Linked DNA regions of Homo sapiens: region 2 is linked to region 1. Evidence: fine-mapped expression QTL. A gene starts in region 1. The other region holds a variant in brackets. All regions are shown on one strand. Distances are between the middles of the regions. Region 1 holds the start of NR2F6 (nuclear receptor subfamily 2 group F member 6). Region 2 overlaps DDA1 (DET1 and DDB1 associated 1).

The links. PIP is the estimated chance that this variant, and not a neighbour inherited with it, causes the effect.
Region 2: its variant is fine-mapped to the expression of NR2F6 in whole blood (INTERVAL, PIP 0.99).

What each region holds. Positions count from the first base shown.
Region 1 is chr19:17,243,417-17,247,788 of GRCh38, reverse strand. It overlaps NR2F6 (nuclear receptor subfamily 2 group F member 6), which reads left to right and starts at 1,870. Exons shown (of 4, transcript NM_005234.4): 1 at 1,870-2,846. The coding sequence starts at 2,569. RefSeq lists silencers at 1,150-1,229, 1,630-1,879, 2,280-2,439, 2,450-2,519 and an enhancer at 937-1,886.
Region 2 is chr19:17,319,414-17,323,785 of GRCh38, reverse strand. DDA1 (DET1 and DDB1 associated 1) reads right to left here. Exons shown (of 5, transcript NM_024050.6): 5 at 488-4,240. The coding sequence ends at 4,130. ANO8 (anoctamin 8) reads left to right here. Exons shown (of 18, transcript NM_020959.3): 18 at 1-563. The coding sequence ends at 269. Among named protein-coding and RNA genes, the nearest start is that of DDA1, 12 kb to the right of the region's middle. RefSeq lists enhancers at 223-272, 1,814-2,430. The variant C/T (reference allele first, on the strand shown) is at 1,918.

The DNA of each region.
Region 1 (4,372 bases):
GAGACAGGGTCTTGCTCACGCTGGAGTGGAGTGACGTGACGTGATTATAACCCACTGCAGCCTTGAACACCTGGGCTCAAGACGGGTCTCACTTTATTGCCCCGGCTGGTCTTGAACTCCTGGTCTCAAGAGATCCTCCTGACTTGGCCTCCCAAAGTGTTGGGATTACAGGCGTGAGCCACAGCGCCTGTCTCTCATCTAAATCTCTTTTCAATCCCTTCTGAGACCTCCACCCCAATGCTCCCCACCAAAGATCCTAGCAGGTCCAGGCAAGGGGCCTAGGATCCCTGCCCTCATCCCAAATTACCAGTCACATTCCCATGCAGCCTCAGAACCAAAGGGTCGTCTCTGCCCACCCACGCCTTCCTCTCTCCCAGCAGGGATTACATCAGGCTGTGGGCAGAACCCGACTCTAGACCTCGGGAAGTCCTTGCTCATGTCTAATCCTAGTCCTTCCTGCTTTTCGTGTTTACTAACGCCTCCTCCTCCACCTCCCAGGCAGCCAGAACGTCCCTGGAGCAGGTTGAGAGGCCCAGGGCTGGGTGTGCCTGGCTCTCCCAGAACCTCAGTTTCTTTTTAAGTGTTGTAAGATCTCTAAGAATCTTTCCCCCTACTCCAGGGAGGGCAATTCTTCAAGTCTCATCAGGGCTCTGGGAGGCAGAGGAGGGGGTGCGCAGAAGGCACTGTCCTGGCCAGAGCTCTCAGAGGCCCAGCTGCATGCTCTGGTGTCCAGCTCTGGGCTCAGGGCGGGGTGGGACCACAGTCTGGGTGGCTGGGGCTGCAAGACTCCGAGGTGAAAGGTCACTCCTGGAAGGGCTTGTCCAGCCGGTTAAAGGTTAACCTGCCCAGAGCCAGAGGCTCGCCAGCCCGGGCCTCGCATACAAAGGGTGCTTAATAAATGCTGGTCGGGCGGGCCCCAGCCCCGGTACTGGGGGATGGGGTGAGTTGGAGGTGGCGGCAGCTGCGAGGCTCCAGGGCGCCTGGAAGAGACATCTGCAGTCCAGCCGGCCGCCAGGCCAAGCCCTTTCTGCAAAGCACAGAAAGAAAAGGAAATTAAAAGGGAAAAAGGGGCAGGCCCCCAGACAGGGCATGCCTGTCGCCTCCAGCCGCGCGGGGCGGGTGGGCGCCCTGCCCCCGGAGGCCAGAAATTCTGCAGAGGGGCCCCCTGACCTCGCGGCCCCGGCCAGCCGGTCTCAGACCACAACATCCCTTCCCCCTGGAGATTCCGGGCACCAGGTGTTAACCCGAGCAGAGAAAGGGTGGGGTGGGGGTCAGACGCGGCGACTTTCTGGAAGAGGAAGCAAACACAATCTAGGGTGTGTGTGTGTGTGTGTGTGTGTGTGTGTGTGTGTGTGTCTGTCTGTCTCGCGCGCGCGTGTGTCTTGCGCAGGGGCGTACCCCCCCCCCGGGTGCCACTGGCCCCCCATCATTGCTTTGCCAGGAACTGTGGGGTGGGGAGAGGTTCCGAGGGGCGCCTCGAGGGTGATCGAGCGACCCAACGTCCAAGGCCAGAGGTGGAGGGGAGGGCCTTGGAGAGACATCTTGGCGAGGCTCAAGGAAGGGCAGAGGGCAGGCGCGGCTGAGGCTCCCGCCGCGGCCCGGCAGGGGTTAAGGCCCGAGCTGGGCGAGGGCGAGGGCGGGGGTGCGGGGGGAGGGGCAGAGGGAGGCGGGGGAGGGTCAGGCCCCGCGGCCCAGCGCTCGGCCCCCGTCCCTCCCGCCGGCCCGTTCGCCCGGCGCCGCGCGCGGCCACCCATGCCCTTATAAGGGCGGCCGTCGCCGGGGCAACGAGCGCCCGCCCCCAGCCCGCGGCGCGCGCCCCTGCCCCCGCCCCCGCCCCCCGCCCGCCCCGCGAATGGAACGCTGTGTGTCAAACCGGCCGCAGCGCGAGGCCGGCGCGCGGGGTCGGTGGCGGTGGCGGCGGCGAGAGCGAGGCTTGGGCCCAGGCGCAGGCCCAGGCCAGGCAGGAGCGGCCGCAGCGGGGGCGGCAGCTCCAGAGGCGCCGGCCCAGCGGCCCTGCAGGCCCGGAGCGGCAGCCGCGGGCGCCGGGGGACCCAGGGGGCGCGGCGATCAGCCCCGGCGCGCACCCGCCGCCCCTCCCCCCCCGCCACGGGCGGCCGCGCAACTTGCGGCCAAACTTTCCCCCCGGCCTCCCGCGCTCGGATGGCGGCCCGCTGAGTTGGCCGCAGCCCCCGGGCGAGCGGCGGCCAGGCCAGAGGACGCCCCCTGCGCGGCTCGGGCCGGGCCATGGCCCGCGCGCCCCCGCCGGGGCCCCAGGGCGGCGGGACGCGAGTCCTCTGGGCCCCCGGCCCGCGCCTCTAGCGTGCCCCTCCCGGCCCCGGGCCCGGCCCCGCGCACGCGTGGGAAAGTTGGCCTGGAACCGGCCCGACCAGTTCCGCCCGGGCGCGAGGACCGGCCGCAGGAAGTTGCTGCAAAACTTTTTTGGGGGGTGCAGCCCGTGCCCCCCGCGCGCCGGGGCCGAATGCGCGCCGCGTAGGGTCCCCCGGGCCGAGAGGGGTGCCCGGAGGGAAGAGCGCGGTGGGGGCGCCCCGGCCCCGCTGCCCTGGGGCTATGGCCATGGTGACCGGCGGCTGGGGCGGCCCCGGCGGCGACACGAACGGCGTGGACAAGGCGGGCGGCTACCCGCGCGCGGCCGAGGACGACTCGGCCTCGCCCCCCGGTGCCGCCAGCGACGCCGAGCCGGGCGACGAGGAGCGGCCGGGGCTGCAGGTGGACTGCGTGGTGTGCGGGGACAAGTCGAGCGGCAAGCATTACGGTGTCTTCACCTGCGAGGGCTGCAAGAGCTTTTTCAAGCGAAGCATCCGCCGCAACCTCAGCTACACCTGCCGGTGAGCCCCCCATCCGCGCGCCGCCGCCGTGCACCCCGCCCCGACCTGGGGCAGGCCTCTGACCTGCTCGGTCACCTTGGGCCTGGCGCTGACCTTCCCTGGGCCTCCACTGCCCCCTCTGAGATAGGGGCACAGCACCCTCCTCCCGCATTCCATGGCTGGGATTGTGTATACAGTCGGCGCTACATCGTTGCAGGTTCCCCCCCCATCAGGTGGTCCCTGGAGGCTTTTGCCCCAGTTACTTGCTTCTCCTTCCCTCCGCTTTTTCTCTGGGGAGGGGTCATCTCCGCGCTGGGGTGGGGGTAGGGGTGCTGTCAGGGGTGGTAACCCAACCCCAGGGCACCCGTTCTCGGGGATCCCGGCGCGCGGGATGCCCTCGAGGGAATCGAACGTGGAACTTGGACCGTGGAGCTCGCAGCGTCCAGGGGCCATTGTCTGCGGCCGCGCGGATCGATACGGCGCGCCCTTGGGGTCAAATATCACTTCCAAAGTCGCTGTGGCTACGGAGGCGGCAGACGGAGGGAGGCTGGGGTGGCACGGGGCGGCCTTCTTCGCATGAGGGGCCCAGCGGTGGGGGTGGGGGTGGGAGCTGGGCTTGCCCATCTCAGGGAACCCCTCTGGGCTCACTCTGGGCCTTGGGTCACCGGAAATCGCCACTGGAAGGCCGGCAGGGCCACCGGAATTGACTGAAACGTCCCTCTCCCCCAGGGGTGGGTGCAGACCTGGGGCTCCTGGAAAAATCCCTCAAACTTTGGGTGTCTCTGAGACGGGCAGGGAGTGAAACGTTTCCGAGCAGGAGCCTTGGGCTGTCCCAGGTCGGAGACCTCTCTGGCAGGGCGTGGCCTTGCTAGCTGTTCTGGCGGAAGGTCCCCAGGGAAAGCGATCGGGGTTGTCCAGCCCGGGAGTTCTTTTCTCACCGTTCCCGGGCGAGCATCCGATCTGTCCGTTTATAAGCCCCTACTCTGCACCCCAGGAACATGCAGGGTCTCTGTGGAGCCCGTCTAGACGGTCTCAGTTCCCAGCTGCCCAAAACAGAGGCCCAAAGGCCCAGAGAGAGGTCCTGGTGCCTGCTTTGCGTTGGACATGGAGGGACGCTGCCCGAGTTGGGGGCACTGTGGGGGAACTGTGGGGCTAGGGTGGGGACCGCTGAGTTCGGATCGGAGTGGCCCCAGGGAGAACGGCTGATGGAAGGCTTGTTGGCTGAGGCCACCAAATAGGGCCCCAGGTACCCGAGGGTGGAGTTTGGCCCCAGGTCCCGGGTCAGGGCTGGCCTGGTGTGGCCATGTGTGGCAGAGCTGCCTTGCTCCCTCCTCCAGCACAAAGTGGGCCACTAGACTTTGGCCTCATTCTTGCTGCTGGAAAACCGCCTGCTCTCTGGTCATATCTTTAGGGAGGGTAAGGGAGGGGGGCTCAGGCAGTTTTGGGGTCCCAGGAGCTTCCTGAGGGTGGTGTCAGGGAGCAGCAATTTTGGGTGGGGGGGGCCTTGCTTGGAGCTGACAGGTTTGTGCTGTGTCAGTTGTGTGACC
Region 2 (4,372 bases), 76 kb before region 1:
CGCCCGCAGGCTGCTGGCAGTGGGACGGGCCCTGGGGCTGCGGGGGCGAGGGTGCCGCCCCCCGCCAGGCCCTGGCCGCTGCCGAGTGCCCACCCTGTGCCATGGCCGGGCCCCCACCCGCCCCCCAGCCCCTGCCGGGAGACGCCAGCTTTTACAGCCTCCCGCCCCCACCGCTACCGCCCACCTCGGATCCCCTCGAGACCCCAGCGCCCTCCCCTAGCCCCAGCCCCAGCCCCCAGGCCGTGTGCTGGCCCAGCGGCTGGCATTAGCTCTACCCGCCCTGCCTTCTCTTCTCATATGCAATATCAGTCATTCACAGGGGCGGCCGGTCTCCAAAATGCAAAATGCGCTTCAGCCCCCGAGGGCCCCCAGTATTGGTCGGTGCCCCCCATCTGCCGTTTTCCTTTCCAAACGAAAGGAAACCCACAAATCCAACAGAAAACACACACACACACACACACACACACACACACAGAACAGGCGATTATTTATTTGTTTTTAATTTATTTTGTCATATTTTTGTAAAACGGCAGAAATGCAATAAAAACTATATTTCAACAGTGCCCGAGGTCAGAGCAGTGGAAAAGGGAGTGGGGGTGGGGGAGTCTGGGTGGCTGGGGCCTAGGTTGGGAACCCCCTCCCCCCATCCTGGTACAGGCTGGCTTGACCCATGAGGGCCTCCTCCCAAAAACTGGGTCTTGGCCACAGATGGAAAACTCCAGGCTGCGCCGCCTCTGAGACGGCCCAGATTTGGAGGCCAACTTCAGCCCTGGCTTCAGCCACTAGACAAAGGAAGGAATCTCTAAGTGCTGAAAAGAGGCGACAATGTGTGCACAGGCCCCAGTCCTGAGTAAGACTCCTTCTCAAAGAGGACAGCGCGGTGGTTTGCAAGACGTGGCCCCTTCTGGCACACCCGCCTCCTGGAACATCGTCTGGGGAGCCAGAGACAGTGGGAAGAGCTTGTGGCATGAACATCAGAAGGCACCTGGCACCTGAGCCTCCTGCAGTCCCCGACTTGTGATACTGAGAGAATGGCACATTTGGGTGTCCCCAGGACACGGGGTGGCATTGGGATGCAGCAGGGATGTCCCACTGTGGGACAGACATCAGACCCAAGTCACTGGGACTCTGTCGTATGACTCAGGAACAGGAACGTGGCCTCTCAGACCCTCACATTTTTCAGGAAGAGGACAAATGTGTCCACATCCAAAGGCTTAAGGCTCAGAGACCAACATGGCCATGCTGCAGGGCTGGGCCAGTGTGAGCAAGGGGCCCTTTGGGAGGCTGTGGAGAAGTCAGAGTTCACTGGAGGCAGGAGAACAGCCTGTGCAAAGGCGGAGAAGGTGGAAGGCAGTTTGGGGGAACAGTGGGGTAAAGGGGACCCCAAAGGCAGGAGGGGTAGACAGAGGCCGGCTCAGGGGCCCAGCGTCCTCCCACAGGCAGTGGGAGCTACACAGGGTGTGTGTGCCAGGTGGGGCATGTCCCGACAGACCCAGGGGTTCTAGGGGGAGGCCACAGGGAGGCAAGCTGGGGCACAGCCCTCAGACCCCAAAGGAGGGAGCTGAGGTAGGGGAGGGGAAGGAGGTGCCCGCCCAGCAGCCCTGCAGAGCGACGGGCAGACAGCACAGGCAGGAGACAGCCCCCAGCCACTCAAAGCAGAAACTGGGAGCCAGAGAGGTCTAGACAGGCCGAGGGGAAAGGCGGGAGTGCCCCCTGCTCCCACTCTGGCCCCTGGCCTTGGAAGCTGAAGTCCCACCATCTCAGTCATTCACAGATGGACACCGCAGGCCTGCCCAGGTCACACCAACCCTGGGGACTGGGACTCCCCAGCTGGCCTGGGAGCCTCCAGGGCATTCAGCCGGACCCGGCACCATCGACCGCAGTCAAGTGTGCATTTCCTGACCACCTGTCCTGTGA[C/T]CACATGGCCCCTGTAGCACCATCACTGTGGTGTAGACACTGCCGGGAGCTGGGAGGTACAGCAGGGTGGCTGTGCTGTGCCTGGGCCTGGTCAGCCACTCCTTGTGTAGGACGGGAGCCCACCCTGGCACTCTCCGTCCTTGGGAGAGATGGGCCGCCTAGGCCCGAGGGTCTGACACAGGCAGGGCCCTCCACAGTGGAATCTGGGGCAGGCGGACCCTCCATAGCCCGGAGTGTCTGCTAGCTCTGTGGCCCAACCCTACACCATCCCAACGCCCTCAGACTCAGCTCTCAAAACAGAGACCTCTGCCAGGCACGGTGGTTCACGTCTGTAACCCCAGCACTTTGGGAGGCTGAGGAAGGTGGATGACTTGAGCCCAGGAGTTTGAGACCAGCCTGGGCAACATGGTGAAACCCTGTCTCTACAAAAAATTTTTAAAATATTAGCCAGGCAGCCAGGTGCGGTCACAGCACTTTGGGAGGCCGAGGCAGGCGAAGCACCTGAGGTCAGGAGTTCGAGACCAGCCTGGCCAACATGACAAAACGCCGTCTCCACTAAAAATAGAAAAATTAGCTGGGTGTAGGGGCGCACGCGTGTAATCCCAGCTACTCAGGAGGCTGAGGTAGGAGAATCACTTGAACCTGGGAGGCAGAGGTTGTAGTGAGCTGAGATCTTGCCACTGCACTCCAGCCTGGGAGACACAGCGAGACTCCATCTCAAAAAAAAAAAAAAATTAGCCAGGCATGGTGGTGGGTGCCTGTGGTCCCAGCGGCTTGGAAGGCTGAGGTGGGAGGAAGGCTTGAGGTCGAGGCTGCAGTGAGCTGTGATTACGCCACTGCACTCCAGCCTGGGAAAGAGTACAAGACCCCAACTCAAACAAACAAACAAAACAAAACAAAAGAAAACTGAGATCCCCACCACCACCAGTGGGGGCAATAAGGGGAGAAGCGGTGTTCCCCCAGCCCCAGGCTCAGTGGTCAGGGCCACAAACCTTCTGCCCAGAGCCCGAACACCCCTACATACCCAAGCTCAGCCCCAAACCCAGCCCAGCTGGCGGAAGAGGGGTCCCCATGAGCGGCCATGGCACATGCCAACTGCCAGGTGCCAACCTTCTGTACAGCTCCTCTATGACCCAGCAAGGGTGAGGCCACCACCTAGGACAGCAAGACCGGCCAGATGCCGTCTGTACTGTCACCATGCCTCAGGGGAGCAGCAGAGGCCAGAGACCCCAGGCCCCCGGATGAGGCCGGCCATCTCTGCGGTGTCTGACAGGTGCGCTGCCCTGCTTGGCGGTATCCCAGGCAGGGGGCTGACCCCGCTCCATCCTTGGCACCATGGACCGTCTCTCAGGAATGACCTGTCCTTGGGGTCACCTTGACAGGAGAGGCAGAGGGGATGGTCCAGGCAGGTCTTGGCCTTGAACATGGTGGCCTCAGCAAGCCCACGAGAGAATCCAGCCGGTCCTGGGGCCCCTGGCGTGGGGGGCCCTTCTCACTCCTCTTGGTGACAACAGGGATGACTCCCAGGGGCTCCGTCCTCTGCAGCCAAGGTGTGTGGAGCAAAGACGCGAGGTCAAGTAGGAAAGACCCTTTTATTGGGGTGGACACGGAGCACGCACTAGTCCATGATAAAAATAAAATGACTCAAGAGAAAGATCCCAAGGGCCGACTTCTCCCCAACGTGCGTGCACGCTGAGTGAGGCCTGGGCATGGGAAAGTTCCGGGCGAAGCGTGGGACAAGACCGAGTCTCAATGGCCTGGACCGGTGTTGGGGGGGAGAAGGCCACTCGGCTGTCCTGGTAGGTCAGGCCACCCCGGGCCCGCCCCTGTCGCCCGGCCACAGTAAAGCCCCCGCTAGAGACTCTCACAGACACACTCTGGTTCTCTGGAGAACTGGGGGCAGGAATCGGGGAACTGGCCCGATGGAAGGCGGGGGTCGGGGGGACAATGTTGTTTTTTTTAAAAAGCATCTACCAACATCACACTACTGGGTCTGATGTCCCCTTTAACCAACGCTTGATACAGGTTACAGCATAAATAAAAACTCAAGGAAAATAAATACATCGGCTCCTATGAGGTTGGAAGTGGTGTGGACGCAGGGTGTGGATGGGCCGGCAGGGAGGCGGGCGGGCGGGGTGCTTACACATGGCGGGCAGGCGGGTGGGCGACCGAGGAGCAGACCTGGCAGGAGGCGCCTGTGGAGTTGAGAGTCTTAAGTGTCCTCGTGCATGTCTGGGCTGTCGGTCCGCGCCACCTTGCGGGGAGGTGCGGAGCTCTCGCCTTCCAGCTCCACTTGCTCCTGGTCTCTCTTCTTGGCAGCGTTCTGGGGGACAGGGAAAAGAGAGGGGCTGTGAGTCTTTTTTTTCGGACAGCCTCAACCTTCTGGGCTCAAGCAATCCTCCCAGCTCAGCCTCTGGAGTAGCTAGGACTACAGGCACATACCACCACGCTTAAT